2 linked regions of the Homo sapiens genome follow. The protein of the gene in region 1 interacts with the protein of each later gene in a biochemical or structural test. Each region holds a gene or a part of one and is shown on either strand. Other genes may lie near its edges.

The links.
Region 2: the proteins of KLF7 (region 1) and FBXO38 form a complex in vitro, tested with the Homo sapiens proteins (one study listed by BioGRID).

What each region holds. Positions count from the first base shown.
Region 1 is NC_000002.12:207,147,866-207,164,604, forward strand, and holds part of KLF7 (Krueppel-like factor 7), read right to left. Parts: intron 1,336-16,739; exon of another isoform or gene 1,126-1,335; coding exon of another isoform or gene 1,117-1,125; intron 1-1,116. UniProt on the Homo sapiens protein: Transcriptional factor. Plays a critical role in neuronal morphogenesis and survival of sensory neurons. Represses the corneal epithelium differentiation.
Region 2 is NC_000005.10:148,391,641-148,408,379, reverse strand, and holds part of FBXO38 (F-box only protein 38), read right to left. Parts: intron 13,667-16,739; 5' UTR 13,604-13,666; coding exon 13,476-13,603; intron 9,382-13,475; coding exon 9,248-9,381; intron 6,399-9,247; coding exon 6,235-6,398; intron 6,033-6,234; coding exon 5,867-6,032; intron 3,696-5,866; coding exon 3,558-3,695; intron 2,124-3,557; coding exon 1,986-2,123; intron 1-1,985. UniProt on the Homo sapiens protein: Substrate recognition component of a SCF (SKP1-CUL1-F-box protein) E3 ubiquitin-protein ligase complex which mediates the ubiquitination and subsequent proteasomal degradation of PDCD1/PD-1, thereby regulating T-cells-mediated immunity.

The sequences.
Region 1 (16,739 bases):
AGCCAGTTCTTGAAATGTTTTAGGAAGCGTTTGATTTTCTTTAAAAGACAAAACCATGTTTTCCAATAAAGCTAACTGCAGTGAACTTGGAATGTTACCACTTGATCTGAAGCATTTTTTTTTTAATAGTTAAGCTTCTACCCGCTTTTTAAAAATCAAAACTAAACCTTAAAAGTACATAAATATTTAATTTCACAGAGAAAGGTATGGCTCTCCAGATGGGGAGTCTGTCCAATTCATGATCTCAAGCATTTTATGGCAACACTTCCCTGTAAATCAAATTGGTGGCAAAAATCCAGCTGCATACTCAAGTGTTTTGTCACATTCCTGATCCCAGAATTTAATTTCTCATGTGGAAGTTTGAGCCAAAGGTATGTCCCAACAAATCCCTACAGAGGTTGGTTGAGAGGCTGACATTCCTGTCCCTCTTCACCTTCACTTACTCATGGAAGTCTGGGGCCAGGGCAAATGGAAGCTGTGAGCTTCAGGGACCCGCTCGACTTGACCTAGGGTCTACCCAGTCAGGCACAGCAAGAGAGGCTCCTCCCAAGCCACCATGCGGTACTGCTTCCCATGGTCATTCTACATGCAAGCTTTTGCTTTGAATGGATGTATAAAGACAAAGCTACTCAACCCAAAAAGATAGTAATGAGCAAAAATCCTGGTAGCCTAGTGATCAGATCCAGCCCACAATGGTTTTTTGACATATATACTACTTTCATTTTGCCCATATTTTTTTAAAATCAGGGGACTTCAAATAAAAATTCAGATTTCTAGCTTCTCTTGAAAAACCAAAAGATCTGGCGACAGGTTCTGCAACTCTCTTGAGCAGTATTTGGCTGGAGATGAATGGCAACTGCCCCTTCAGATAGGGTCTATACTTTCTATGTCACCACAGTTCCCACCACTCTCTAGTGCCTTATACTGTGCCTTCCTCACTCACTGACATTACCAGGCTGACTCCCCGGGGCCATCTTTATGACTCCTGCTCTCTGACTTTTCCTTTGCCAACATCTGCTTTGGGGGCAGGGATCTCCTATCACCCCTCCACCCTCACCTGATTCCCCATTCTCTAAATTCTTGGTGCCCTTAATATATGATATACCCAGTCATTACCTGTGTCATCTACTGTCCTTCCTTTTGTTCAAGACAACAAAAACAAAGGAATGTCTCCTTACAGCCAACTCTGTGTTCCACCTAAAGGATGCAGTTTCCATCAGCTCTTAGGGACTGATAAATCTGTCTTTTCCCCAGTCCCACCCAGTCATGTTGATTTCATAGTCAATAATAAGAAACTGGTGTGTTTTCTTTTTGGAGATGATCTTCAATAATTTTCTGAGGAGAAAAAATTAAAAATCTGTTAAAAGCAACACCCCCACTCAGCGCTGTCACTCTCTCTCCAGGAGGCTCTGCCTTTGTCTTCTAGACTAGCCATACATTTTTCTAGCACTTATCACTGCTGAGGTTCAGCAGGGGTGCCAGACTAACATAGAGAAAGGGGCCTCCTGGGCCCATATCCCAGGCTTGCCCATATCTGCTCTACTGGCAGCACTGTTAGTAGTCCAAGAAATCTCTGATGATCCATCCCGGCTGACTCCTGTGCTCACACTCTGCTCAGCGGTGGTGCTGTCCACTGTTGATAAGGCACTCCTGCCACAGTTTTGGCAACAGGAAGACATCGGGAGAGCCTCTCACAGACAGAGCTGCAGATATGCCTTCATTTCAACCAGTACTCTAGGTAAGGCAGTATGAGAGTGCAGCTTTGTACCTGACACCTGGGCTCCCCAATCCTTGTCAGTATGGCACCTGTCTTAAGCAGGATGTAAATCTCAACATATTCATTTGAAGAGTTCACAGGGGCTTGGCCAACACAGTCAATGTGGTCCTCGGGTCTGAGTTCAACCTTCCTTCCAAGCTGCAGTAACCTTCTACCAACTTTATCCTGGGCTAGGACAAGAGTCTGCATCTCCAAGAGCAACATACTGCTCTGTCATTCTGACCCCAGTGTGCCATAAACTAGGAGGCTTCCATGGACGTAGACATATAGGTAAGTCCAGGACTTCCTATCCAGGTAAGTCCCCGTCTTCTTATTATCTAACAACATGTGACAGTGTATTGTTAATGAGTCACTGTAGCCACACAGATGTCTACTTTCAGAAGCAAATAGTCCCCAGAATTCTCAGTTTTACCCAAAACCCAGACTTCCTTCATCCCTGAATACCACTACCACCCTCCCCCACAACCACACACACATACAGACATATACAAATGCACATGATTGTTTCATGAATGTGGTAAAATACAATTGTTAAGAATGTATTTTAAAAACTAAAGAGAAGCATATTATATCTATCCAATAGTTATACAATACTGTATTCCACAGACTAAGTTTACTTTGCAAAATTTAGCTTAAAGCAAACACACATGAATACACACGAAATAAATTACAAAGTTTTACGTCCCCATTTAGACAACCAGTAGGAAATTTTTCAAAGTACCACAATTAAGGTTCAAGTAACAGCCCCACTGGAACAAATAAAAAGTCACTAAGTTCCTGCTCGGAAAACTGAATAGAAATCATAAAGAGGAAGAAAGCCAACAAGAAGCGATAGTTTAAGGCTTGAAACAAAAGCCTCCCCCACTGCAGAATAGAAAACAATTACACCGTACAGCATGTAACAGTTTACAAAGCACTCTCACATCCATATAGCATTTGATTAGAGCAATCCTACTATCATAAGCCCTGCACTTCATATGGGAAATATAATTTAATAATTTGCTTTGTTTTATACTGATAAAGTCAGGACTAAATTCCAGGTTTTCTGATGCCAAATCCCTTGAATTTTCCACGACACCGGTATTTTTCAAACTTCAATTTCATTTCACCTTCACGGATTTTTACCAAATCAGCATTCCATCTGTACAATCATTCCCCTATTGTTTTCATTTTTACTTGCCTCACTAAGGCATTATATATTAAGGCTGCATGTGTTTTAAATTCTTTTCCTGCAAATGTTCATTAATAGAAGATAATCATAAAATTAAAAACAACAAAATCAAAACAATATTACAAACTTTCAACTGGAGGTTTGCCTGTCAAAAGCTCTGAGTGTAAGACCTGTTCTCTTTATTAAAAAAAAAAAAAAAAAAAGGAAGAAAGGAAGGGAGGGAGGGAGGGTGAAAAGGAGGGGTGAGGAGAGTTTACCAAGCCTTAGAGAGGCGTTAAAGACATGGCACCTCAAAGCTGACTGTCTCCTTGAGTTAAAAGGACTGAAAGAAAACAGCAATGGGAATAAAACTGCCTCCCGAGGTAATTCTGTGTTATCAACACTGCGCTTATGAAGCCCTGTGGAACTCAGCCCACCCTTCGAGAAGCAGTTCCCTCAGCCATGTTGCACCATGCCTTGTGTTAACATGTGAATATGTTTAAAATATTGCAAGGAGGCTCACAATTCTTGAGGGTCCAATACTGGCTTGGGCTTAAATAATGATCTCTGAAGCTCAGGCCAGTTATCCGCAAATTGAGGAGGGCAGGGGGGAGGGATCGGAAAGAGATGTCTAATACTCCTCAAGTTCTGGTATTTGTGAAGTCCTAGTCTCTATAAATATGGGGCATAAAAAAGAGCTCCTGGGTGCAAAAGCTGGAGGAAAAAGGCAGGCGCATCTTGGGTAGGAGGACAACTGGTTTGCATTCTGGTTCTCTTTTGCAGGGAAAACTGTGCAAGGACATTCTATGACCACATAATGTCTGCCTTTCCCTTTCTTTTTCTCTCTCTTCCTTTTTAGAAATATTTTTCAGAAATATTTTAATAGTAGCTAATTCACACAGTCAAATAGTCATTGGTTTTGAAAAATTTTACACACACACACACACACACACACACACAAAATAGTAATAATCTTGGGCCTTTATTTGGCACTCAAAATTTTTTAAAAAGAAAAAAAAGTAATCGGAGATTGGAAAAATGGAGGAACACCCAGCAGCAAGTAATTTTTTTAAATGGCTTTTTTTAATCAGGAAAAGAATGACCCTAAAAATCACCATCTGGTCAACCTAAATGATATCCTTAGTAATGTAAGAAAGCCAATATAAAAGAAAACACTTTTTAAAAACACCCCTAATGTAGAATAGCATCCTAAAAGCATTAGAAAAGGAAGGCCAAGTGCCTTGCTGGCAGTATTTGAGTGCCAAGGGTAGGAAGAAAACACATTACTTGATTCTCAGGAAAGTACTTTATTATAATACCCTGGACTTTTTCACACAAAAAGCATCACTTCCTCAGTGAAACAAGTCATATAAAATCCACTTCCACAAAAAAATAAGCAGTTACAGCGGTTAATGGAATTCTCTACAACATGCTTCTATGTCAGACTAAGAAAACTAAGAACTGGTTACATGTTTTTCTTACACACACACACACACACACACACACACACACACACACGGAGTTTTTACTACAACTGACCAGCTGGGTCTCTGGGAGTGGCAAAAGAAACTGTGACAATAGCAGGCTTTTTTGTTAATGAGGGATGTCTGATGGGAAAAAAAAATTGTTTGGTATTGTCTCATTTTACTCCCACTTAGACCAAGAGGCTGCATGCTCAGGAAAATCAGTCAGTTTCCAAATTGGAAAATGTTACAAATACCAATAAGGAATGAACATGCTCTAGAGCAACTGCTAAGCCCAGGCAGGGGGAGGGGTGAACCAGATGGTCTTTTCCATCCCAGATTTCGATGATCTACAACAGAACCTGAATGACTAGGAAAAAGTGAGATGCGATTTGGAAATTGCTTTATAAAATAGAATCCCAAACAAAGACACTCAACAAGGCAGAGAAATCTAAAAGGAAATGAAAATGGTTCTGGGTGAGAGCAGAAAGCAAGCCAGTTTGAGACTGTGATTGATAAATAAAGCTTGTCCCCAAATCAGAACATTTTGGAGCGGAAGGTGCCTTAGAGAGATGCTAGTCACAAGCCCAAATGCATGCTCACTGGGCCAGAGATCAGAAATTAAGCGAGGTGGAAATAGTGGGGACAGGGTTAATTGAAGAGTGCACGATCTGTCTAAAAGCATTCAAATTAAAGGGAATTGAAATATGCATGCCGGCCAAATAAAACACATCTTCAAGCCAGTTCAGTCTAGGAGCTTACTGTTTGTATGTCTGATAATCTCACTGTTCCTAAATCTACCTACACTGTTCACATGAGGAAACTGAGGACTAGAGAAGTCACATCATTTGATGATAACCACAGAGCAGCGAGTGTATACAGCAAAGCCAAAGTGCTAGGATTATGTTACACACCGAGATGATGTTAAACAACAGCAAAAATAAAAATGACATTAACCCAAAGTCCTCCGCACACCTTTGGTTCAGGTATACTCAGTTCACATGGTTTATTCTTTTAAGAACAAATTAAATTATCATCTAGTTAAACACAAAGCTAGTGAGAACTGGGGGAAGAAATAGAGGGAGGTCGTACTAAAAAAGAAAAAACAACAACAATGAAAGGTTCAGAGTCAGACATTTTGTTTCTCAAAAACAATAGTTAAATTTATAGTTAAATTTACTGCCCTGAGTCAGACATGGCAAACAGAGCTGATTTTACAGAGAGGTAAAGTGAGACACTTACCATGGCTGTGTCATGGTTTATTTTGTAATATATTTTTTAAAGTTAGGTGTTCAAGTTTCCTTCTAGATGCTTCTCAAAGAGCAAAGTGAGAAAAATAACTTCCATTCCTGGTATTGGCTATTAAGAATCTTTTTTTTTTTCTTAAGTGTAATTCCAGGGGAAAAAAAAACCTCAGTGAGATATATCAAGTAGTGGAAAATCTTTGCAGGAAAATCATGAAGTAGAGAGAAAGATGAGAACATCCTCCCTTGGGGCAGCTGGAAAGAGACTAGACAAAGAACTGAAAAGTTCCTTTGGGGAGCCCACCTCCTGCTAGCCAATGGGACTTTCCTTCCCTGGTTTCTCTGTAGCTAAGAAAACACAAATATATAATCTACAGAAGGAGAGAATGCAGCCTTCACACAGGGCTGGCATCTCTGAAATAAATCTCTCCATAGGTGCTAGGCTAAACCTTAAATATGAAGATATAATCTTTTGAGTTTTATAGCAGCATATGCATGATTCTTCCCCTCCCCCATAAAACTCTCAACAGGAACAACCACATCAAATTATTGCTTTTCAGAGGCCAATTCAAAAACACCCTACTTTATCACAGAAAGAATATTCCTTATGTATGTGAGTGCTTCCATTATGTCTTATTTGAAGGGGGAAAATGAAATAAAAATCCGATCTGAGATATTTATAGATCTCATAAAACCTGATTCACTCTCATAAGCTGCAGTAAGCTCAGTCATCAGGTAAGGCAGAAATGGCAGGTGTAGTAACCGGCACTGTATTATGTTATATATGCCTAATTCTGGCTCTTAAAAAAAATAACTGCATGCTAGAAAAACATAAGATACGTAAGTCATAAGTCAGACTGGACAGAAAGAAAGGGGAAGAGATTGGACATTTGCATGAACAAGCCAAGCAAATTCCAAGGATGTCAAACTAGGCCCAGTTTCCGGGCACAAAGGGTATTGCTAGTCCTCCCCCAGTTCCAAGCACAAATTACTTAATGAAAGTTTCCCTTGTGGATGGATAAAAGGTATACCATATCCAATGCCCAGCATTCCGCTTTCCCCTGCCTTCCATCATTTATTGTCTCTTGGGCATTCCAGGCTCACTGGGATCTTCAAGACACGAAAGACACCACTGAGAGAAAGAGCATTGTGCCTCTGTGTATTATTATTGAGAGGAAAATGGGGAAGGAAAGAGCATTTGTTGAGTGGATGTTATGTGCCAGACACTAGGTCAGAGAGCTGATTCTTATCAGGAATTAAGAACTCCACAAATGACAAACAAGACTCAGAGATGTTAAGTGACTTTCTCAAGGTTCCACCTCTGCTTGATTTCAAATCCTTCATGTAATTTGTCTACTATGAAACACTGTGACCTTAAAAGTGCCTCGCACAGTCCAGTCCTTTTACAGATAAGAAAACCAAAGCCCAGAAAGAAGACAGACCAATGAACTACTGGAATCCATACTGGGCCACTGACTGCCAGGTCACGACCTTTGGCTTCTGCCCTAATGTCCCCTACCTAAAGAGCAGTCAGTATAGATGTAACAATTAAGAGTGCTGGGCCCTGCTGAGGCTTGGATCCCAGCTCAAATACTTCCAAGTTGTATGATTTTAAGCAAGCCATTCAATACCTCAAATCTCAGCTTTTCCATCTGTAAAATGGGGATAAATAGAATACGCATTTCATAGAGCTGTTGTGAGCATTCATTGAAATGATGGATACAGGTGCTCAAATGAGATCATCTTTAGGAAGTGTCTGATACATATGAGACAGTACTATGATGGTTATTTTTATGACAGGAAGATTAGCCAAGTGGAAAGAGGGAAGAGAAAATTTATTCCACCAATGGTTTTTTGCAACTCATTTGCTTTGCAGCCACAGTAAGACAACTTGCTTAAGCTTCCTGTGCCCCATTTTCTCACCCCTGAATGGGAAATTCTGTAATATCTGTCTGCTCCCTAGTTAAAGAAAGAATGTGCCAATGACAAAAGACCAGGAGCAAAACACCCTGAGCCCTTCAGAACAAAGGCTCAACACAGATGTTTGTTACATTCTCATATGCAAACATAAAAAGACCCATCACAGAGGAAATCATCTCTTGATCCGTATTAAAGAAAAGCAAGAACCTTGAGAAGGGGAGGAGAATGTACAAATTAGGGCTGAACAATCTTGGAAGAAATGAAGTCGACTCAGGTCTGACCTTAAGCAGCATCTCATCACTCTCAGGGGAATCAGTTCTGCATAGGGCCTCACAGAAGACATCCTTCAACACCATAGTCAGAAGCTGCACTTCACTAACATGGTCTGTAGTGCCCATATGAACAAAGGCTAAAAGCTCAAAAGGCAGGGGGTGTTGGGGTGGAAAGAATCTATTTCCACTCCTTTGTATGCTGAGCAAATTTGCCGCCTCTCCAAAAATAAGCACCAATGTTATGACCACTCCATTGAATTCCTGCTAACTCGGCTCTGGAAGGTGAATGTGAGAACGGCGTCAAGAGCAGGTGGGCACTCCCTTGCAGGGCAATTGCTCCACGGCTAATTGCCGTTTTCACAGCTGGGTTGAGCTTTCCAAAAGGCATCCTTCAACCCTGAGCTCTGAGCTCCTCTCCTGATGTTCTCTCTTGCCAACCATACCCCCATCAAAGACAGTTTACAGATGAAAGGATGTAGCTACAGGACATACAATTTTGCAAACATCACAGTTTGAAAAAGAGGCGTTTCTAAGGCTTCTTTGTGAAGATCACCACACGCCCACAGTCATTACCACAGGAGCTAAGCCTTCTATGGGTGTGAAGGCAGCCTCCTTGCCGGAATGTCCTCAGCAGCAATTCTTCCACAGTTTATTTTTGCTCCTCTTACTAGAAAGATGGATCCTCTGAAATTCTTTATAAACAGAGTCTACTTCCAAACACTGTGGTTGGTCAGTAAGAAAATGGAGAGCTGCTACCTAATGCCTCTCCAGCATCATCCAACAGATGTACATGCATGCATCCAGCCCTTTCAAACCATGGAGCAGGCTGAGGTGAGTGGAAAATCATGGCCAAGGGCCTACTGAGAATGAATTGTTTGAAACCCAGCAAGGCTGGAGTTTAAAGCCCAACACCACAAAGTTTCCAAATATGGAATTTGACCAGGTTAAGCAAATTCCTGATGGGTCACAGGAAATGTGAGCCAAACAGACTGCCTTAGACACTTTAGGGTGAGGGAAAGCAAAGCAAGAAGGATGAAACAACACTTGGGCAGCTGCTATTAACAAAAGTGCCAGATGAAGCACATCCACCAGCATGATCCTGTTTTACTATAAACCTCTGGTCCGTGTGGATTCCAAATTACACAAGTCATTAAATATTTCAATATAAGAAGCAGGTAACCCCAACTCTGACATATCATTAAACCCTCTATACACCAATGGCTCAATGCCTTGGCTGCATACTGGAATTGCCTGAAAGCTTTACAAACACTGATGCCCGGGTCCTTCCCAAAGAGATACTGATTTTATTGGTCTGGGGTGCAGCCACGATTGAGAACCACTGAAAAAGGCATAGTCAAATCTTAAGTCATAGTCATAACATGCTCCTCAAATAACTATCGAGTGCCCACAGTGTGCAAAGCTTTCTAAGAAGCAGGTGATACATTAAAAGTTGACTACCAAAACTATACGCAAGGCATCAACTCCTTAAAGCATAAACTTAACAAGAAAAATGACACAACAGAAAAGTAAAAAAAAAAAAAAAAAAAAAAGAAAAGCTTTATTATAACTCAAAACTGTAAAGCATCACGGGGAAGTAAAAAGCTCTGCACAAGAGTATGGAAATCATAGCAGTTACAGTTGGCTGGTAGCAAGGGAGGGAGTTTGGCACCCATTTGAAAGTTAAGGAATGGGTGGAACTTGGACAAAGAAAATCAGGAAGGGGAGAGGGAGGAAGAGGAAAAAGGCTAAAGGAAACAACAAAAATAAAGACAGAAGCAGGAAAAGCATAGTCACTTAATTTGGATGGCATTTACTACATGTGAAAAGGGGGGAACTTGCAAATATTGTGTAGACCCAGTCTTGGAACACCCTGACTCTTGGAAGTTTGGCCTCATGCTATGTATAAGAGGGAGCCATGAACAGTTTGAAAGCAGGCCACCTGGGGTGATGGTGGCAAAAAGGCAAGTCCAGGGAGGTGACAGGGATTGTGGCAAGGCAATGGCCAAGGGTGCCATCCATGACAGGCTGATGCTAAAGCACCTCAGAAGCCAAGTCAGTGGGATTTTTCAACTAATTTTAGACTTCCGCTAATTAGATCTTTTCACCTAATTTTTTATTAGATTCAAGAAAAAGAAAGGAGTTACAATGACTAGAATGTCAAACCTAGATCATGAGACGAATAATCACATTATTAAAAGAAATAGGGAAGCCAGGAAAAAGGAAGCAGTCCGTGGAAGAAGTTGATGAGTTAGGGGTTTAGGACATATTCAGCTGAAGTGATGGTAGAACAACCCCAAAGCCCATCTTGCTTGTTGCTTATTTCTGGTTAGAAAAAAATGAGGGCCTGAAACCCAGGGAAATATCTGGAGGTGGAGATGTAGAGTATAGCTGTGAGGAGATGAAGAAGCCCTGAACTGGGAAGGAGATTTTAACCTCTAAGATGTTAGAGGTGAAAGAGATCTGTGAGACACATTCTGGGAGAGAACTTTCACCATCATAACTACCAATTCAAGGAGGTAGGGAAGGGCAAAAAGTAACTGGGGAAAAACTGGGGCAAAAAAGTCAAGTGAGCCTTCCATTTTCCTTTCCTCATTAGGGACAATGGTAAAAATTAGGCCTACTTCATCCATCAGACCTCAAAAGACTTTTTGAAAAACCTCTCAGAGGTTGAGTTTCTTCACTACTGCTTATTACAACCCTCTCAAGAATTTAAAAACATTTAAAAAGATTTTCATCAACTGGTACATGGGTTGCTGGTAAAGTTTCGGGCACTCTCTTTGTTGGTGAGGTGCCAGAAACAAAGCAATTTCACGTTTGTTGCTTTCTACTTCCATCTAGTTCTATATTCCATCCAACCCCCTACCACATATGCCCCACTGCACACCCTTCATACTCCCACTCCATTTGTTATTATTTAAATGACAATAATTTTTATAAGACTCGAGTTATAATCTGGGGCTATTTTTTCGGTACAGTGTATATTTTCCAATTTAGCACACATTAAAAGTGGAAAAAGAATCAAATTACACAAGTAAGCCTTCTCCAAAATATTCGATAACTTGTTCTAGAACCTAGCCAATCCCAAAATTCCATGAACCAGTAGTCTTAAAAGTAAAAAGGGAATTTTCTTGCCTCCTTTGAAGGCAAAAAAGAAAGAGAAAAGAATCAGAAGTGAGTCAAGGTATATTCAGGTGACAGAAAGCAAGTAAACTGGTCTGGGCATCTGAGAGTCCTGGGCCCTGAAACCATCAGTGTTAATAAGCTGTGTGACCTTGGAGAGTGCAATGCCTCATCTGGCTTTAACAATCACTTAGTTCAACCCAGTATTTTAGAGTTGAGGAAACCAAGACCCTTTCAAGATTTGAAATTCTGAGATTCTATGTTCCTCGCTTTGGTACAAGGCTGAGAACCTGACTTTCAAAATGACCCTCAGGAAATGTCAATACACCCACATTCAAAAATAGATATCGCATATGGCTCTACGTTATTTTAATTACCTCTAATCATTTCCGAATGGCACAGACATGGGCACTGTTTCCTGGCCATTATGGATATGTGTATTCACATTGTATACTCATCTGCCCTAAAAGTATCCAGCCCACAACATGACATTGGCTGAAAGCTTTTTCACAACAGAACTTAGTAAATCTCAAGTATGTTTTATAAACAAGGTTGGAACTATGTGGGTAATACAGATAGGCACAGGTCAGTGTTCCAACACAGAACTGAATGTTTCTTTCTTTCTTTCCTTCTTTCTGGCACTCATGCTCTATTCTGTTTAACTTAATTTTGAACATGCTTTCTCTGCCTTACTACAGTCAAGCTCCTAGAGGGCAGATTCTATATCCAATTCAATTTTGCATTGCCCAAATACAGTATTATGCACATAAAAAGGGCTTAAGGAATGAAGTATTTACTGTGGAATATTTTCTATACTTGAATATAAACAACAAAAATCCCACAAAGTGTGACTAGGTCCATCTACCAGCTCAATGAAGAATGGTATCCCCCTGAAATCAGAAGTCACTCGCACCTCATTTGGGCTGATACTAGACTCAGATCTCAAGGCTACTGCAAACGCTCAGCTGTAACATTTATATATCAAGCATGTGGTACTGCTCGAATGGAGGGGGGATGGACATGAGTCGTTTAAACGGGACCAAGTTCTTAGGGTCACACCAAATACCCCGAGAAGGAAAACTAAAGGGATGTAGGGTGGTAGAAATAATTCTGCCAATTAGCAGGAACTAATCTGGGCAAGGTGGGGCACAGCAAAATCACAAACAATCTTAGGTAAAAGCATGTCCCAGTAATGGCAACATTTTGTTTATTTGGGGAATTTTAGATAGAATAAGGATATGTATATTCTACAATGAGTATACAGAGAGGAGTGTTTTTTAACTTGTCAATGTTACATGTAACATGAATAATTAGACACTATAATTTGTTTCACCAACTTTAACACCATTAGTAGTTGAGTTTTCTAATCACTGTACTTGGTAAGATTCGGCATTTTGGGGTTAAAACATTCCGCCCCCCTACCCCCAATCGTTTATGCTAAGCAAGCAGTCAGTTGATTTGGGAGAACAAAGGGACTACTGGACAGAGGAAATCTCTGCCCCTCACCCTCTGGCACCATTCAAGTTAAGTTGGGGAGCTGTCCTAAACTTTCAGCAAATCGCAGTTCTAACACATAGGCTAACTGATATATCGAGTGAACTGGAATCACAGAGCGATTTTCTGCATTTGCCAGTCGTGGGGTCCAGCAAAGATAATTAAAAGCCCATTGCACAATACTATAAAATGAAAAGATAAGGGGTATCCACCGACCCCGTCTGGAATCAGACCAGCTATCCTATCAACTTGAGCCAGATGGGACTGGCCAGAGGAAATTGTATTCTTCTTTCCTCAACAGGCACAGAGAGCAATTAAAGAAGATTGCAATGTCTTCTTGTACTCCAAAAGTTAAAACGCAAGAATTCTCTGAAGAGAGTACAATGTGAAGATTCATAAAAGAATGGCTATTAAAGGCCCCATTAGGACCCTCTCTGAACTATCTCCATTTAAGTAGAGAGGCAAATTAGCCCCCACTGGCATTTATGTTTAGAATGGGCTGGCAGAAAGAAGCAGCCCACATTTGGATGCTTAAGGTCTCTGACACACCCATACATAAATCATTTCAGGGCAAGGCTGTCATCTTGCATCTTCTGCTCTGCCTTTTAAATGGATGGGACCCCAACATCCCATTCTCCTCAGGGTAAGGAGTGGGGGTGGGAAGTTCATGGAGAACAAAGAATAGTGACCTCCTTTTCCCCCTACTAAGGACAGATGTAGTAAAAAATAACTGCATTATAATGTTTGCCCACTTTAAAATACCAAACTGCAAACAGGTAGACTGAATGATAATGTTTGAAGCCCCTAAATCTACACAAAGATGTGTCTGTTAAAGGAACATGGAAATGAATCTATTAAAGGCTAAGTGTGTGATTGATTGCAGTCACATGTGCTTTCATTTGTAGAGTTACATCTATTTAGTGATTGCATCTTCATAAAGATAAATTCTGGGTAACGGGCAGTTATATTTTTATTTCATCTACCAAGTTGCTGTTTCAAATAAAGAAACAGATTTACAGTAACTGAAGAACACACAAATCACATACCAAAAAAAAACAGTTATTTTATCCTTTCAGTGTGGCTAGCAAGGCTCCTTTGTGTCTACAAATTTCCCTGGGTGGTGCTGTTGCCAAGAAATTCTAATTCATGACAAGGCTATCTGCGAATTGGGGACTGAGGCAAACCTACGGATGGACAGACCCTACAGTTTGCTTTGTTTTCCTGGCTGATATAGCACCTGGCAGCCCAGGCCTGCAGAAGGAAGTGCAAAGGCAAGATCTTCACATAAAAGGAGAAGCAATGTGGCTCACAGACCAAATCCCATCCCTGGTACCATGAGGCTGTTCTTGGAATGCAACCATTTCTGTACGTTTTCCCCTAGAGATTCCTTATACCAAAGGCCCTCATAAAAAGTGTTTCAGGGTGCCTGAAACCAAGATGAAATTGCAGTGTTATGGGGACACTTTAGTCCTTACAGTAGCCAAGTATGCCATTAGTTTAAAACAATAGGGGAATGGGGGAGGAGAGAAGAATGTTCTATGATTTATTTATTTGTTTCCAGTAGCAGTGGAAAATTTTCTCTGAGCAAAGAGAGGCCTGAAACTGACCCCATCTGCCAATTATGAATCAGCATTAACAACAAACATAATTCCATAAGACTTTTCAAGCAAACATGCGATGCTCCTCAATGACACGACGCAAAGCTAAGTCCAAATAAGACTTAGATCATCACTGCTTGACCTGCACTCATGAAATAGCAGACTAGAGATAAAACATATAAAAGTTCTAAAAGTCTTTGTATATTCAAGAAGAAAATAAAAGCATTGTATCAAATTCTTTTTATTTTCCAAGTCAGCAGTGTGTCTAAAAAAAAAGATTATGATTTCTATTGGCAAAAAAAGTCATGAATGAGTTTCCCTTTACTCATAATCAAGTGGTACCCCATAAGAAACTCTGGTTTCTGTCCTACCCTTGACCTTTTCCTACTTTTGCTCAGACAGCTCTTGGAAATTTTCCTACAAGTTTTCAAAGCGCTTAAGGCTGGTAGTCTTAAGAATTGCGCGTCAGCTGAATTCTATAAAATAATAGACCACATAAGCACAGTGTAATTTACAGTTATATGACAGGCAGAAAGATGATGTTACTTGGGCCGAGTGCTTAAGTATGCAGTCAGAGCCCAGGAATGGAGAGCTGTTAATGTGTGATGTCCATTTGGATTTCAGAATTATACCAGCAACGATTATTTTCAGACTTGGAGCTATGTGGCTAAGGCATCATTGCCAGAAAATCCAATGTCAAAACGAGGATCTCCGTGACGAGAGGGAGCCCTGCCACAGTCAGTGACTTTGTCACAGGCTCACTGACTATTAAGCAGGACAATTATCCCATATCCTAAGTTTAAAATAAAATCCCCAAATTGTTTATCTTCAATTTTCAAACGTAAAAATGTTCTTGAGTTTATCATCGAAGCCACTCTTTCTCTAGAAACCAAGTCAGATTATCAGAGTCTCCACATTTTGCTCATCTCCATGAGCCCAGGTACATTGTTCACTTTAAGAAGAACATCTAATAATTACTCCTCATTTGACCTCTAAAATCTGATTACCCCAGAGCATAAAGAAACTTCTTCCTGTCTGGGGTTCTTTGCAGAAACCCTGTTGAGCTGTTTTGAGCAAAAGAGTCTCAAAATTTCATTATCCGATAGTTGATTTGGAACTAACAGTTGCATATCACCATCACCACCCCTTATACTCAGAAGCAGCAAGACGGTTTTGGGAGGGGGAAGAAGGAAGGGCTAGAGGTTAAAGGTTTTGTCATCAGTGTAAACCTATGGTCCTAGTCGCCTTTATATAGAGCAGTTGTGATTACGGAGTCCAGAACATAAAGCTCACTGGAGTGATATATTGTTTATTAGTGCTTCCCCACAAGCTATGCATCAGCATTGGCTATAAGCATGACGCTGAATAAGTTGGCTAAGGGTTTTAAGGTGAGAGTGGCTGGCAGTTGGAGAGGGTTAAGGCAAAAAATGAGGGGGTTCCGAGGGGTGAAAAATCCTTTGCCTGTAGAAACTAAACTAGAGCTTCCCTGAATGGGGAGGAGGCAGAGGAGCAGGGGGAGGAGGGGAGAAGGAAGAGCAGAGATGGCTTCTTAGGAAACAATAGATCTAATACATCCTCTAGTTGTCAAACCGATGATGTTTCTTTGCAGATCTAGAGTTTGTCCTGGATGGTCTAGCCAGATCTAGAAAAGCAGGTTTCCTGTGAAGAGACCTTCCTCCAAATCTGGCTTTACTACTCTGAAAACTTGAACCAAAACAAAGTTGCATGATTCATCAGTAGGGAACGTTCTAACAAATAAAGCCAACTTTCTTCCTTCTAACACTGCTTAACAGTTAGTCACAAACAAGGGCTGCCTTGGGCAGGCTGACTAAATCAACAGATTCCCTTCTCTAACCTGTCTAGACAGTTGTTAATATGCAACCGATTCCATACCAGTGGGCTGACAGTGTGAAATGAAGGCTATTTCAGAAGATTTTGGTTTAATTAGCATTGGAAATAAAAGGAAGAAAAAGATCCAGTGAGACCCTTCATGAGACACACTCTCGTTAAGGATAAGGAAAAGGATGCATTGAAGAAAGACTTTATTCTAAAAATATGTGAACTGTGTATGTGTTTACAGAGAGACAGAGTCAAGCATCTGCTAGCGTCCTTGGACAAGAATGCATGTGTGGACACAGAGACACCAGACGCCAATACCTGGAGGAAAACTCACAGCCTCTGACCAGAAGTGAACTAGCAACAATGGTACAGTTAAAGGATCCGCCTTGCCACTCGGCTCCTTATACCAAAAGCCAAACCTCTTTTGCTAAAGCAGAGACTGTTACATCTCAGCCTCAAGCTGGCAAATCCTGCTTTGGATCCCGGCAGAGGAAATTCAGCCGTTCATTAGCCTTAACAAGCTGCTGTCACTAAGCGAAGAAATTACACGAGCAGCCACACACCGAGCCTCTCACAGCCCTCCCCCCAAGGGCAAGCGGGTTTCTCCAGGACGGACTGTACAAGTTCACACTTCCTATGTGCAAATCCGGACTGTCTTCTTGGACTTTCCATGGTGCACACTGTACAATTTTTAAATACCCGTGTCCCCCCGCCCCCACCCACCATCTTTCCTGCAGAATGTCCCCTCAGCAGCTCCTAATCGCTGCTGAAAAAAACCACTGTTTCCGCAGCAGAGCCAGCACTTTCCACTGACCAGCACTTTCTTTATTCCACTTCACAAAGCCCAGTGAACTTGTCACCA
Region 2 (16,739 bases), on another chromosome or scaffold:
GTTTAAAGCCAGGAATGCAACTGTTGCTATGTGTATGACCAACTTTAGTAGATACTACCAAACAGTATTTCAAAGTGGTTGTATGAATTTATATTCTGACCATCAGTGTATGAAAGGTCCTGTTGCTTCACATCCTAGCCAACATTACTGTTTTTATCTTTTTCATATTAGTCACGAGTAGGCATAGTCATTTTAGTGCTTGAATATCACACTGTAGTTTCAATTTGCATTTCCCTAACGATTAGTAAACTTTTATCGTTTTTTCATGTTTATTGGCTTCTTGTGTGCAAACTTTTCTATTCAAGTCTTCTCCCATTTTTTCTATTGAGTTGCCTGCCTTTTTCTTATTCATTCCAGGAGTCCTTTATATCTTCCCAATACCCAGTATCTGTATTGCAAACAGCTTCTCCCATTCTGTAGCTTGGTTTTTCACTCTCTCTCTCTCTTTTTTTTTTGAGACAGAGTCTCACTCTCTCACCCAGGCTGGAGTGCAGTGGTGCGATCTAGGCTCACTGCATGCTCTGCCTCCCAGGTTCACGCCATTCTCCTGCCTCAGCCTCCCGAGTAGCTGGGACTACAGGTGCCCGCCACCACGACGGGCTAATTTTTTGTATTTTTAAGTAGAGACGGGGTTTCACCACGTTAGCCAGGATGGTCTCGATCTGCTGACCTCATGATCCGCCCGCCTCGGCCTCCCAAAGTGCTGGGATTACAGGCGTGGGCCACTGCGCCCGGCCGGTTTTTCACTCTCTCAATCATGCCTTTTGATGGACAAAAAAAAAAAAATTTTAATTTTAATTTGGTACAATTTATCAATATTTTCTTTATGGTAAATGCTTTTTGGTGTCCTGTTTAAGATGTCTTTGTGTACTCAAGGTCAACAAGACATTCTTCTAAGTTATTTTTTTAAATTTCATTTCAAAATTGTTCTCATCTGAATCTATGACCCATCTAGAATAAATTTTTGTGTGAGGTATGTTGACTTCTTGAGTAAAATACAAGGCAGGGTCACCCTTAAAAACTGATTAGAGAAGAAAAGTCTCTGTTTTTCTTTTAGGACCTTTATACAAACTCAGCTTTTAGCACCTCTCTACAGGTCTTCTCTCTAGTGAATACACCAGTAGCCTTCTTTTCGTTTTTGACTTTTATCTTGTTAACTATCGCCATCAATCAAAATACTGTTGGTTTTAAGGGGTTGTTTCATCCCACTGGCTAAATGTAATAAAGTACACTTATACCACACTTGACTGACAAAATGTCTAGAAATGTAGTGTTTACTCTTCATTATATTTCAACAGTATTAACTATAATGTCTGTTTGTTAACAATGGTACTTGATGACTTTCCATTTTATTTTAGAGAGCCAAAGTTAAGTTTTTGGTTTCCAACTATTAATCATCCATTTTGCTAAACCACTATTTTTTTTCTGCAATGAGATGTTTAACACAAAGCACATTCTGTTACGTATTATTTATCTATAGTTAAGTATACACAGAACAACTTTTTTCTTTTAAATATCATCATCTGATGGGTAAATCAATATCCAAGTAATATGTATAAAAGTATTTTTTATATTATAAAGTATTATGTGATAGAGATTAACATTATTAATGCCTAAATTTTTTTTGGAAGCCTCGGCTGTACAAGTTGTAAAACATCACCAAAGAACGCTAGAAATCCCTGTTAACATTTCTAAGAAAGATTCCATACATAAGAGGAGGTATTATTAGCTACATAAAAGTCAAAACAAGCCAGAAAACATGTCTTATCACTCTACTGTCTATTTTAAGAAAGTTTAATGTGCACCAAAAGAAAATGAATACTAGCTATGCTCATGGTTACTTACTGTCCATCAAATACAACAAAGAAAGCAGTTACTGACGAGCATTTTCTTTTTAAAGACTTGCCAGGGAAGTTAAATAAAAGCTTAATGATTATTTTAAGTTGATTTTTAAAAAATATTTAGTAATTAAAGAAAATGAATACCTGATCTCCAACTGTCTTCAACAACATGTTGGATAAGACCTCCAAGGAAAGGAACTCGAACCATTTCTAAGTGTTCCAAGTTTCGGGCAGAGGCTAAGCCTGTTACTAAAGGGACATATTTCAAGGAATTTGTGGGTCCTGGAAAAAAAAAAAAATCTTTGATAGAACAATGTAAAGTGCCTTAAAATGAATTTCAAATCAGTGAAAGACATGTATAACTTATAAACTCTAAGTCTTAAAATGACAGCCAAATTGGCTCTCTGAAATCAGGTTCTTGTTACAAATGAAAGTGTTAGCCTATTAACCATACACTTACTCAGCATAAAGGTTTTTCAGTAACACTGTAGAGATATGTAGTATTCCGTAAATTCTCTAAAGGCTCAATAGTTTTGAACTCAAACTAACTAATGGGAAAAAGTCAAGATAAAAATTTGATCCTTCACTCAAGTAAACAGCTCAATCATTTAATCATCTCTATGACCAGTGTTGCATTAGCTACTATAGAAGATCACAAAAGATATGGTCCTGTCCATCAAAAAACCTGCAGTTGACATGGAGCTAGAACTAACATAAGTAATTATAGAAGGATAAGAAGGCAGACTGCATCAAGTGTAAAAATAAGATCTGCCATACTCCATGAAAAAGAAAAAGAAAGAGGAGAAAAGTAAGTTGGAAAAGGCAGAACCTGAAGAACGCATACAAAAACAGAGGAAGAAAGTGCACATCTCAGGATAACGAAACAATAATACAGCATAAGAGAAGACATTGAGATGGAAAGCTGTATGGCTGACCAGGGAACAATGAATAGTCAAATGTGATGATAAAAGAAGATATATCTTGGAAAGGTGTCAGAATAAGGTTATCAAGAGGGGTCCTGGTTATCATGACCTTAAGCAGAGTAGTTCCCACTTAATGCTCTAGTGCAGCGGTGTCCAATATTTTGACATCACTGGGCCACACTGGAAGAGGAAAAATTGCCTTGGGCCACATTGGAAGAGGAAAAATTGTCTTGATATTAAAGATAGCTGATGAGCAGGAAAGAAAAAGAAGAAGAAGAAGAAAAAGCCTATGCATAAATCTCATAATGTTTTAAGAAAGTTTAAGAATTTGTATTGGGCATCATGTGGGCTGTGGCCAGTGGACCGTGGGTTGAACAAGCTTGCTCTAGGGCAACAGGGACACTAAAGATTTCTGTTTAGAAGGATAATACCATAAAAGCTATGTTTAAGGGAGATTAAGGAAGCCAACTATTTACATGCAGAATGATTCGGAGACCAGAAACAAAGTAAGAAGACTGAAATTTAATAAAACAATCCTAGGAAAAGTAAAAAGTACCCGTAAAAAATAGAGATATTCTGAGTTTTGTTTTTTTTTTTTTGCTGAGGTCAAACACAAATCATCTTTCTAATGTCTTTAAAACAAAAAGTACATTTATCTTCACAAGATGAATATGTTATAAGACATAAATAGTAATAGCATAATATAATTGTATTTACAAATGTAGCTAGAGTTTGCTTCAGGATATTTTTAGAATAACTTATGTTTAATTCCACCATAATTGTGTACCATTACCTGCACAGTTCCTCATGACGAAAGTTCTTAAGCTGATACAAAGGAAGTCTTTAAATGGCTGTGGTTTAGTGAGTCTTACCCACTTCATATAAAGGTGCCTTAGCATTGGGATACAAGGAATTTCAGGAACATTCACCCCTAAAACACAAATATAAAAAAGAACAAACAAGAAAAAAATCACAAAAATATACTATATTTTGCTTATAAGTTCAAGAGTCTATTTTTCATATTAACAGCTTAACCTTCAAGGATTTTTATCCGAACAAATTATACAAAATCTATCAAGTTTGCCTTATTTAAAACAGGCTTACAAAGAACAGTTTACGTAAACCATAAACTGACTTAACTTTTTTAGGAAAGGCCAATGGGAAGATAGAGTTTAAAAAGTATTTCTATGTCTTAGACATGTAAGTCTTTCTCATAATCTTACAACTCTTCTAGGATACGTTTTCCCAGAAGAGGTAAAGTGAAAATGGATTACTGAAAGCAAAACTATAACGATGGAGATGGAACACACAAATTTACTATTTGACTACCAACATCCACTGCCCCCTAGTAGGAGAACTATATTTCTCAGAGCAAAGTCAGCTAGATGGGTTTAAATATGCAAATAGATATCTGGAAGATAGCCAAACACAGAACTTTAAAAGCTGTTTTCTATAAATATATGAATCTTAAGAATTTGTAAATGTGTGGGAGAAGCCAGCCAGCATGGCTCTGAGAAAAGCAGAAACCTGCCAGTCATTTATTTTAGAATTTCAAATTGGTAAAGGTAATTTGATGCATGGGATCCAGGAGTGGCTTAATACTAGGAATCATATCCACAGAGGACCATGACCAGAAGAAGGGAGGTGTAGCGTGAGGTGAAAAAATACAGGAAATATGGATGAAAGAAGATAAAAGCCAAGGAAGGGACACAAATTTATTAAAGAAATCCAAGGATCCAGGATGATGGCATTTAACAAACAGTAGTTGGCAAAACTGTTTAATGCAATTTTTAAATTTGAGACAATAGGAGCTCTGCTAGCAAGAATAACTAGAGAATGTAAAATTGCAGTACTTGAATGGTCAGTTGTTTATAAAGGCTAAATTCTACCAAATGTTCTTATTGTAACCTACAAGGATTACCCCTTAACTTGTTCCTCTCAAAATAGCAGAGTTAAATTTAGTTTGAACTATGCACACACATTGTATAGCAACAAATGGGAAGTAAAATTAAGGATGAGACAAAAGGACAAAAAGCAGAAGTGAGGTACAGATTGAGATGTAAGATGCAGAAGTCACAAAGGTTAAATTTAGCATATATTGTAATACTATGAAGATGGTAGTACTGATTGTACTGATTAGGAAACCCAAGGAAGAAGGGTGAGACAGATGCAGAGAAGACAGTATACCCCAGGCCCAAACCACTTTCTGTCTCAAACAAACTCTATAAACAAAGGACATAACTGCCCATTCTCCTGGTAATGTTTATTTTTATTAATTTACCACACCTCTGCATCACCATAATACAGTGTTAAACTGTTAAATGATTCCCATAAATTAATGCATTTTAATAAAACTTACCCTGTACTTATATTTGCAATGAACTGTGACAGGCATTGTAGAAAATATAAAGATATGGAAATAAGTCTTTGACCTTAAGGAGCTTATATTATAAATTCCAGATATTACAGAATCCTTTTACATCTAAAAATCCAATTTCAAACTAGATATCACTCCCTGATCTTATAAATGAAGGGTTGCTAGAAATCTTTACTCTTCTCCCATAATTGTGTATCTAAGTCTTATTTAAGACCTACTCCTTATCATTCCTGATGCTCTCCCTGTACCACCTGAGTTTCAGAAATTTCCACTTCTTTAGACCATCCCCAATACCTAGAATAATGCTTAAAACACATATACTCTCTCTCTCTCTGTGTATGTGTGTGTATATATACAGAATAAAGTAGTAAACAAATATTAAAGGCCAGCTATATTAACAGGGACCCCCGAATTCCTTTCAGTGGCCTAAGCCAAAGGTGACAAATTTGAGAAAATATTTACACTTTTTACTTAAGTTGAAGTTACTGGTATATAATTTCAAAGAATATTCAGATGGAGAATGTACACTTGTGAAGCAGTATTTCCCTCACACCAGTGGATCTTTAATGGGAAATCGGAATTTTTATACAGATCTTGCAAACATTTATTTTGCAATCATCAATCAACAAAGCCATCTCTAAAATTCTCATTATTCTTTTTCAGTGAATATTCACATTTTATGGCATTTCAAGGAGTTACAAGTGACCCAAGAAACATGTACTCACCAACTAAATGTAAAGTTTGAATTTTGGCTCCTATAGGAATTTTCAGTTTATTTTCAGGAGGAATTGGAAAAGCTCCATTACGATTACGAAATTTCCCCAAAATATGAACATGGGGCATATATGTCCAAATGGATTCTACCAACTCCAAATGAGAAGTTTCCACACCCTAGAAAATAATGCCAAAGCAAGCATAAGAAAAGACTTTAGTTTAGCATCCAAAGCTTTATGTACCACAAGATGCTAAGTACACAATGGAACTTAAAAGTTTGTGACAGATGAGATTTGCATGTGAGTGAACACGTCTATCATTCTTTGGTCTATTATTTCATAAACAGTTGATGCCAAAATGTTCAACCAGGTGCACTCACCACTAAGTTTGGGCATGCCTGCAAAGCTTCTAGGACTCCTGGAATGCTAAAAGCCTCATGGCCCCTTACTCTTCGCCTCTCAAGGTATCGAGGGTGAAGGCCATATAGCTGTTCAACATCTGGCATCTTCTTTAATAGTGTTAGAAAACTGGCATCTGTAAAGCCTGAGAAGTTCAGAAGTATTTAGAGCCAGGTTCATCTTTCTGTTCATTAACATTTACTAGGCACTCGTGATTTTTACCAAAAGTTAAAAAAGACTTCCTCTTCAAATTTCCGTAAAGCTAACACTAAAGCTGAATAAACATAACAGAAAATATACTCCTTTAGTAACAGAGGAAATGAGTCAGAAACTCCACTTAATCTAAGTTAATACTTTATGGAGGAGGCTTTTATTATTGACTTTTTGGTTTTTGTTGCTTTTAAGGCATAGAAATCTTCAACAAAGAACACACTTTTAACCCAGATAACTTGGACCTATTTGGTGGATGGAGTGGGACCACCCACCTGATCACCACCACCCTCCTCCTCCCCCATGGGTACTCTCGTCTGTAAAACCTTCAGGACTCTATAGAACACATAACTAAAAATATAAATAAGATATGATCCTCATCGTTAGGAAGCTCACAGTTCTGACCTAATTCCTATCTCAAATTATTCTATCCATTTTCTAATAATTACTCTGATACTCTGTCATATGTTTAACTATTACTCCCCCGCCATTTTAGACAATTAATTCTTTTGAAAAAGACAGATGCAAGTTAGCTAAGAGAACCAGAGTGATCCAATCTCAGGGTATGCTGTTGATAGGAAGCTATCTATCCAGGAGACCATAGTAGGAATCAACAAGATGGGAACAGAGAGAGGCAGGTTACTTCCACAGCAGGAGCTGTTGGTTAAGTAAGTGGGGAGACAAGTCTCATATAGATCCTATTTTAATCTGTTACAAGGGCTTTTTTATTTTTAATGAAAGTGGTCAGAAAGCCAACTGTCTGCTTATTAATGACAAAGAAAAACATTAACTGTCAAGAACAAAAAGTAGGCCCCAAATATTTAAGTCTTACATACTTTTTTGAAAGTTGTTTTATTTTTAAGTTATCTCATTTAACATGTAAAGTCCAGACATGCTAACTTTAGTGAAGAGTAAGGAGAGACCAGAGATTACTTGGTCTCTAATTATAATAACAGTTCTTATTACTTTCTTGTATAGTAACTTTTAATGACTGAACGATTCAATGTGTTAATCATTTTTTTTCATTTATTCTCACAACCAAATCAGAAAGGTTATCACCCCATATACAAGCATAAAAAATGAAGTTGAGAGAGTTTAAGAGCTTCCAAATGGCAGTGCTGGAATCTAAAACCAAGTGTAACCCCTGCAATGTTTATCCTCTTTTGTCATACATGTTGCCTCCCACGAGAGAAATGGGGAAAGTTCTATCTTCTTTACAGAGATGGAGTGAGAATCCAAAGAGATCATATACGTAAACCATAAAGTACTATTATATAAAGGATCTGAGTTAAATGCCAGATAATAGGCCAAGGTGGCATTAGTGAGCAAGGTTAGTGTGATCTTATCCTAGGCTAGAGACTGTTTGCTTCAACTCTCTTTTACATTCATTGCAAAGATGGGAAGCCTTGGGCTCACAGGTTATTTATCATAGCCTAAAAGTCAGCAACATGCAGTCAAATTCTTCTCTAATTGGTAAGTGGTAGTGATGTTAATGGTAAGACTATATCACATGGGAGTTCTGCCATCCTGTCTTTATATACTGTGTTAATCCCGTCTTCAGAATTCCAGCTGGCCTAACCTTTGCAAAAGTAAATCTAATATAAGGAATAAGACAATCATTTTCACACTGCCCTAATTTTTTTTCTTTCCTGACATACAGGATCATTCTGAAACAAGATGAGATGAGGCTTTTGCCCTTAGAATGGCTTTTATTAAATATCTGAAAGTAACCGTGGTTTGCCTCCCACAAACCTATTAATAAGCTCCAGCCTCAGGTGTTTGCAATGTTCTTTATAAGAAAGTATATATTGATAACTACTATGGCCAGCTGATAAGAGTTACCAACTGATTTGATGACTCTCTTGAAAGGATGCAGCATCCACCTGCACAATTCCAGTATTCCAGAGCTAATCTGTTCTGTTCTATAGAACAGAACAAGACAATTATCTCCTCCAGCCCTTCACTTCTATTAAGGCTTTTTTTTTTATTTTTATTTTTTGGTTCCCCTCTCAGCCTTATCCCATTTTCGAAGTCTCATAATCTGGACATCATAGAAAAAGGATGACTTTAAAAGACAGATTCATAATTGCAAAACAATAGTAACTAAATTTTACCAATTAATGGATTGGCGTTAAGTGAAAAGAAGCCTTAATTGCCTTTTATTTTAACTCTTTCAAGTATGCTTTGCTTAGCTAAAGCCATTAACTTTCTTTTCAGGTGGTCTCTTCAACTGGGAACAATTTGCTGTGGTTAGGAAGCTACTGAGTTCTTCACCTGTAAGGTCAGTCAGTGGCTTATTCGAGAATCTCCAAGACCTACTATAGGTCTTCTAAAGAAATTGGAGTTCTGTGGCCTATTCTACAAAAATGGCAAGTATTTATTTAACTAAAGGGTGCAGTTTAGTTGCAGAGGAAATCTATGATGAAAACTGTTACCATTCACCGGAAAACATGCATCAGACAGTAAAGGACACACAGTGTCTAATGTGATACACATATACTCAATTAACCAAAGGCTCATGTTCTCCAATCACAGATGTGTGGAACAGGCTGATATAGTTACTTAAGGACAGGAAATGAAAAGAGCAGACTATTAAAACAATAAAGCCTCAGGTAAAACGCATTTTACAACCTAAAACCCAACATAAATAATTTAGACAAAATCTTGCCAGCCTACAAGGTGACTTAGATTGCCTTTCTCAAGACAACAAGTAACTTTTTATGAAACCATTGTTACTACTTTCCAGTAGGACACTACTGTACTTCACAGACTAAATCCACTTACCACTTGGCATGTATTCCCACCACCGCCCTGCACAGAGATCTACAACTCTCACAACTCGCAGATATAGGGTCACTGCTTCCTTTAGCTTCCGGGAAAGACATTCCATACACATGATATCCTGCAGAGGGAGGTACCTTTGTGAGAGAAAGAAACTCGTATTTATCAAGTGGATAAGTATTACTTCTCACCAGTAAGTTATTTTTTTTTCCTTCTTCCAATCTCCTACCACTCAAATGAAATAAGATCTTAAGACAGAGATTTAAAGCTACCACACATACGGTCATACAGCTTTTTACTACAAAGGTAAGTCAGCAAATAGTTGAGTATCCAAATAAGGTATTGAGCTCCCTCCACAGGTCATTTGATAAAACCTGCCTTTCTTCTTTTGAGTTTTCATGGACAAAGAAAATCTAAAAACAAACCAGAAAAACAAAGAAAAGAAGAAAAAAAAAAAAACAGTGCTTTTCAAGATGTGATGAGAAAGGAACCTGAGAAAGATCAGAGAGAATTACTCAATTTGAACATGCACAATATTATTTCGTATCTTTTACAGAATCTACTCCTGCAGGGACATTCTGCTCCCTCTCAACTCCACCATCCTGCTCCTGCAAACTCTACTATCTTCTCCATCAACAAATATGTATACTAGTCATATAGTACACAATTTCTTTTCCCATTTTTTTTTTTTTTTTAACCTTTAAGGTCACATACACTGATAAAAGTATTGCGTAAAGTATTAAGACACCTCATGTGAATTACAACTTCCTCTTTTCCATTCTTCTTTATTATCTTTTCCTGAAACTTTCAATTAATCCTGACTTTTGTTCTGTTATATATTCTGAAAGGTCTATTTTTCTCTTAAGACCCCTCCACACATGCCTAGATTAATTAAATGTTTTGAAAAGTTAAAGCTACCTTTACCTACTGAACCTGTATTGCGTCACATTCTACTCATTGTTTCACAACAACCTTAAGAGGTAACTAGCTGGTTCCTGTTTGGCATACAACTCTCTCCCAGTCCTTTATCTCCCCCTCTCTGACCTGCTGTGTTCCCTACCCCTCTCTGGCTGTTAACTTTAGCCAATGAGATGCACCAGCTGGAGGGCTCCAGGTGGCAATGCTGCCTTTCTACTGCTGCTAATCCCCTAGACAAATTCTTCATCATCCCTTACTTGTTCCCTAAACTCCATCTACATCTCTGTAAATAGTCCCTTCATTAAATTATCTTCAAATTCCAGGTAAGTGTATTTTCTGTTATCTGCTGGCACTTCACTGACATAGTATACACTATTATTACTCCATTTTATAAGTGCTGAAATTAGCTCAGAAGAATTAAACCTGCAAAATGTCACATGGCTAGGTAAGAGGGAGAAAGGGTCAGGAATGGCAAACACAGTTTTGTCTGACACTAACTCTTAACAACACTGCTAATTCTAAAAGAAAAGTCCACATATACCTGTTGAATATTTAGCAGATCCATTTATTTTTTCTACTTCTCGTCCCTCTTCTTACCCCTTTAAAATGATTTAAATCAAATATTATACAAAATAAATCATCACTGCTAGCCATAACTTAATTTACTCTATAACTTAGATTATAAGCAGAATTTTTCAGAAACATGACAACACATTTTATAAACAATGAAAAACATTAAATTTGCTTTCTAAATAAATTTTGCCACTGTAATATTTTTCTCCTAAATATTGTTATCCAATGTATTTGCCTAGGTTAAAATTCTACTCCCTTTAAATACAAACAGACCAATAATCACAAAATCAAGATTATTTTACATCATATTTTCCCTAAGAAGTAGCATATTTTTTCTTCATAGTTATATAGTCAAAGGACTAGAGTTCAGAAGACAGATCAAATATAACACTTTAGAAAAGAGAGCATAGCAGGGACAGCAAAGATTAGGTTTCTTTTAAGGAAGGCCATAGTTTTTCTTGTTTTATGAAGACATGCTATGTAGTTACTACACCACCACAATGAATCCTCAAATCAAAATTTTAGAAGACTAAAAAATGAAACAAAATTGTTTGTTTTTAGAATAAACACATGAAGTTCAAGAACTAAGTTCATGGTTCTTTCTACGTGCTGTCAAATGCTGTTTTCTCCACTGTAACTACCATTATATATTGACTTGATTCTACCCTTTCCATTTGAATATTCTGTTTGAACTGCACAATGTTATATGATCTATTTTCAATTTAGATTATGGTCCAATGGCCAGGTGTGGTGGTGTATGCATGTAATTCCAGCACTTTGGGAGGCCAAAATGGGAGGATTGCTTGAGGCCAGAAGTTAAGACCAATCTAGCCAACAAATCAAGATCCTGCCTCTACCAAAAAATGAAAAAATTAGCCAAGCGCAGTGGTGTGCGCCCCTAAGGCAAAAGGATTGCTTAAGCCCAGGAGTTCAAGGTTGCAGTGAGCCATGGTCATACCCTGCACTCCAGCCAGAGTGAGACTCTGTCTCAAAAATATATACATATTATATATTGTCCAATTTTTTCACAATATATCCTAGCATTATCCAACTTTATCCCTAGATGCAATTTTACCTATGTGTTCTTAAAGAATTTTGAAGGATTTGTTTAATTCACTGACCCATTTTGAATTTAGCTGTAAGACATGAGATAAAAATGTGCTTTTATTTTTTTCTCCAAATGGTTTGTAGGTTGAGACATCATTGCTGAATAGTCCACCCAACTTTTCCTCACTGATGTGAATACAACCTTGTCATAAACTAGATCTCCACATGTATTTGAATGGAGCCTATGTTTGTCTCCTTTACCCAACTGTCCAGCTTTCTTTTCCAAAACATTTTAGAATGTAATTGAACATCTGGTAGTTGCAAGACTCTTTTTCTGAAAATTTTTGGCTATTCTGACAGACTTTTTTTCTGCCAGATGAACGTTAATATCATTTTGTTCTGTAAAAAAAAAATCTATCATTTTAATTTGGTCTTCTAATCCCAGACAGAACTGAACTAGCAAAAACTACAATGTGTCACAGAATAACGAACTGCAGGAAATAATGACATACACATTTATATTAGAAAAAAAAATACAGTGCTTAGGATCTCCTAAAATAACTGTTATTGCTATTTTAAAACTTCATAATCTGCAAATATTCATTTGTAGAAATTCAAAACATTCCTAAGAACTTCATATATGGAAATTTTTCATAGGTAAACTACCTAAAATAATGGAAAATCCAGATGCTTAGAGAAGTTTATTGCAACCATAATTGCAGAAAACAGAAAAACTGAAAACTATCTAGATGTCAGACAAGGGAAATGATAAGTACCATGTTATTTATACATTCCATAGAATAGTAAGCAGTAAAAAAAAAATTATGAAGACCATGTAGCAATATGAAAAAAAGCAGAATAACCATTAACATTTACCAAGCATTTATGCTTCAGTTTGCTAAGTGTTTAATGCATTATCTCACTGAATCCTAATAATATTGCTATTATGTCTATCATTAGTCTAGAGCTAGCAAATAATAGACCCAGGATTCAAACTCAGGTCTCTAATTTCAGAGACAAAGTATGTTAGAATTTGCTTATTTGAATTATATAAATAAGGACAATAATTGAAAGAAGAGAGCAGTGGAAACTAGAATGACAGCTTTCCCTTTAAAAAAAAAAAAACAGTTGTTATAATGCGGTTTGGGTAAAAATATAATTTTTTTAGAAGTCTTTTTGTGTTGTGTTCATCATAAAACAACTTTAATGTATGCACTGCATTTAGTTATGATGGGTATTATCTCAGAAAACTTAGTTACAATCACTTACATGTTATGTTTCTCACTGTGGGTTGTAGTCAGAAAAAGTCAGAAACACTGCCTTATATTGTGCAGTGTAAACACACAGTACTGTTATAATGCAGTAACAAAAGTCAACAAATCTATTAGCCAATAAAAATCCCAAGAAGCCTAGAAATGTTAACAGTCTAGAGAAAGGCTGTCCAACAGAACTATATGTGACAAAAGAAATATTTTGTCTATACTCTGTTGTCCTATACACCGTGTCCACTAGCCACATATGGCTACTAAGCACTTGAAATGTAGCCAGTGCAACTGACGAACTAAATTTTACATTTTTACTTAATTGAAATGTAAATGCTGCATGTAGCTGGTAGCTACCACATTAGACAGCACTGCCTCAGGGTTTGCTCTTATCCATTCCAGGCAGGTAAGCCAACCAAACACAATCTTACCTAAAAATATGGCAAAGTACTTCATGTGAAAGTTGATTCATATAGTCCTTTGTTTCATCTGCTGTCATTTCTTCTGGAATTTCATTATTCATGATACATGTTTTCACACTTTTCTTTCGTGGCCCCATTGTTGTGCAGTCTCCAGTATCAACGAGAAAATCTTCCCTTTTGTTTACTTGAGTTCAAAGTACCTGAAAAGCAAACAGAACGAAGTAGACTAAAAAAACACACCCCCTACTAAAACCCAGGTTAAACAATGTTTATTTTCAAACACACACAAGCAGAGGTATCATAATGGTACACATCACATTCAAATTAATAAAAATATTAATTTGTTCTGTGCAAAAAGCACAGAACATCTTTTTCTCAAGATGAGTGGATAATCAACTTCTGAAGATAATATAAATATGCATTACTTAGAAAGAGCAAAAATCCAGGAATCATGAGTATTGTGCTTTAATTTGTACTGTTGCTTCTTAGCTTATTCACTCAATTTCTCCAAGTATCAATTTCTTCATATGTAACGTGTGATCATTAAATGAGGAATCAAAACCTCTTCCAGCTCCAGGAGCTTGTGGTTCTTTCTAGGACTGACCCTAACATAGTGGAAAGGAGAAGAGATTCTTGGGTTCTAATCTTGATTCTGCCCCAAATTATTTCTATAAACTTGCATCAATCTTTAAAATTCTTCATTCTCTCACCTATAAAGTCAGAGATTAGATTAGTCATGGACCCCTTTGTGAATCTGATAAAAACTAGAGAACTCCTAAAAAATAAACACAAGCTTATATACAACTTCAGAGAAAGAATGAAACATCCCTTCTCCCTCTCTTGTGAATATTGACATGGTATTTCACTTTTGCATCACATGCATATTTTGTTTTTAAAATAAGCTTTAGAGAAGGATGAAAAGAGAAAGAAAAGAGGGGAGAGAGGAGGAATGGAGAGGGAAAGCAGGGAGAAAATGGGTTGCATGAGCACCCAGATGGTTTTCTGTTCTATTGATCAGCATGTGGAGTTAACACCTTGATTGTCAAATTGTCTAGGAATATTTTAATAATGTTGGTACAGATATAGGGAAGTTTATAGGAAATATTGGTCTCTTTTATATTAATGGCTTTGTAGATGGAGGAGGCACAGGATGACAGCTGAAAAGAGGTGCATTCAGATTCATTTAAATATGCCTTGGCACATTTATTTTGAATACCACTTATGTACTCTGGGCCCATTGTAAACAAACGGCCCAGAGTTAAGTGGAGATACACAATTAAATAACCACGCAAATGAGCTCAGAATTGCACACGGAGATAACTGCTGCAAAGACAGTAAACACAGTTGTGAAGCCTCATATAACAAAGGGGCCTGAGTCACTAATGGTTCTCCTGAGGGAAAGACAATTGAGCCCATAACTGAAGGGAGAGCAGGAATTAACACTGCAAAAAGTAGGAAAGAACTCACTAGGAGAAAGGCACCTGGTGGGCAGAGGGTACTTTAAGTATATGCAGTTCCTGAGGTTTTTTTTGCCTCAGCAGTAAATGGACACTCTACTAGGCTAAGTAAATCTTCATCATTTCTTCTGCCTGTGTGTGTGTGTTCTGGTCTCTTCTTCCCTCACTGAAAGGTTATGTGCTATTTACTTCTTGAGGCTGTCAGCATGCTTGCCTCTCATCACACACACACACACACACACACACACACACACACACACACACACACCCCTCTTCTGTTGTTTCTAACCAGTACGGCCTGAGAAACCAGAGAAATCAATGTGTGTGGACTGGTATATGGGCTATGCTACCCTGAATTTGTGACATGTGTCTTAACTTCTCAGAAGCTTACTCCTATGTTGTCTATCACATTTTGGCTAAGAGGCCTCCGGAAAAATAAAGTTCATACTCAGAACTGCCCAAGCTAAAAGAAAAGCTATAAATAAACTCACCTGCTTCTGATTAACCACTGCCCACCTTTTCTTGTTTACTGCCCTGCCTCCTCCAAATGAATCTTTCCATCTTATGATAGCTCCTGAAACCTCTAAGGTTACATTGAACATGTAGTCAACAAATCCAATAGCCTCTTTCCAGTGCTTCCCCATCTGACCCATTTGTATTATGGGACACCGCTGACCACTCCTTTGAAACCCTCTCATCCTTTGGCTCCGAAAGTGATATTCTCGATTCTTGTCGTTCCTCTATGACCACTGCTCAGTCTCCTTTGCTAATTTATCCTCGAGCCCTCTTCTCCCTGGGCAATTGTACTCATTCCCAAGGATTTAGCTATTACAAATACACACACACACACACACACACACACACACACACACACAAAGAAAAGCAAAAAAAGAAAAAATTTCCAACTCTACTTCTTACCTCTCCTGAGCTCTGAACTTTATTTCCTCTGCCTATCAGAAATTTTCACCTCAATAACTTGAACATCCTTCAAAAACACTATGTTCAAAATGAACTCCTTCATATCACGAACCCTCCCCCTCCCCAAAACAAAGATACACAGATATATACAAATAAACACACCTATTTCCCTAATGTGTTTTACTGAATTCCTGAATTGTAAACCTTGAAATCATCCTAAATATATTCTGATTTCTCATTTCCCACAGACAATTGATGGGCTATTTTTATCAATTTTATCTCAATACAGTTCTTACATCCATTCCCATTACCTTTTGGGACTCCATTAACATTCACGTGCACTACGGAAATGGCTTCCTAAATGATACCCATCACTGTATCCTCAGGGTCGAGGAAAAGCTTAGCAGACACTATGCCTGCCATAAGTAATTTATTGAATAAATGCTTACCATGCTATACTCTATACTGAAGCCAGTTATCTTTTTAAAACAGTCTCCTGATTTATAGTGTTAAGTGAAAAAAGCAAAACACAGACTACATCTAAAGTATGATTCTAACAACAACATAATTTTAAAAATTAAAAAGATTACCCCCTAAAACTTTTTTTAAAAAGTATGATAAAAAAGACAAATATACTGTGTCTGCATACAACATTTTATGAAAGAAGACAACAAAATATTAACCGGTAACCTTTGAGGAGTGATAACAGAGGTTTAGGAAAGCAGAAAAAAACTTTTACTTTTCACTTCATATTATTCTCCATCATTTGAAATTTTCAGATTGTTTTTAAGAAGTACAATATACATGGCCAAGCAAAACAAAACAATCGGCCTACAAGGAATCCTGGTTCAGAGGATAAAATATTTCCAATCTAATCTCAAAACACCAGATGTTCCAA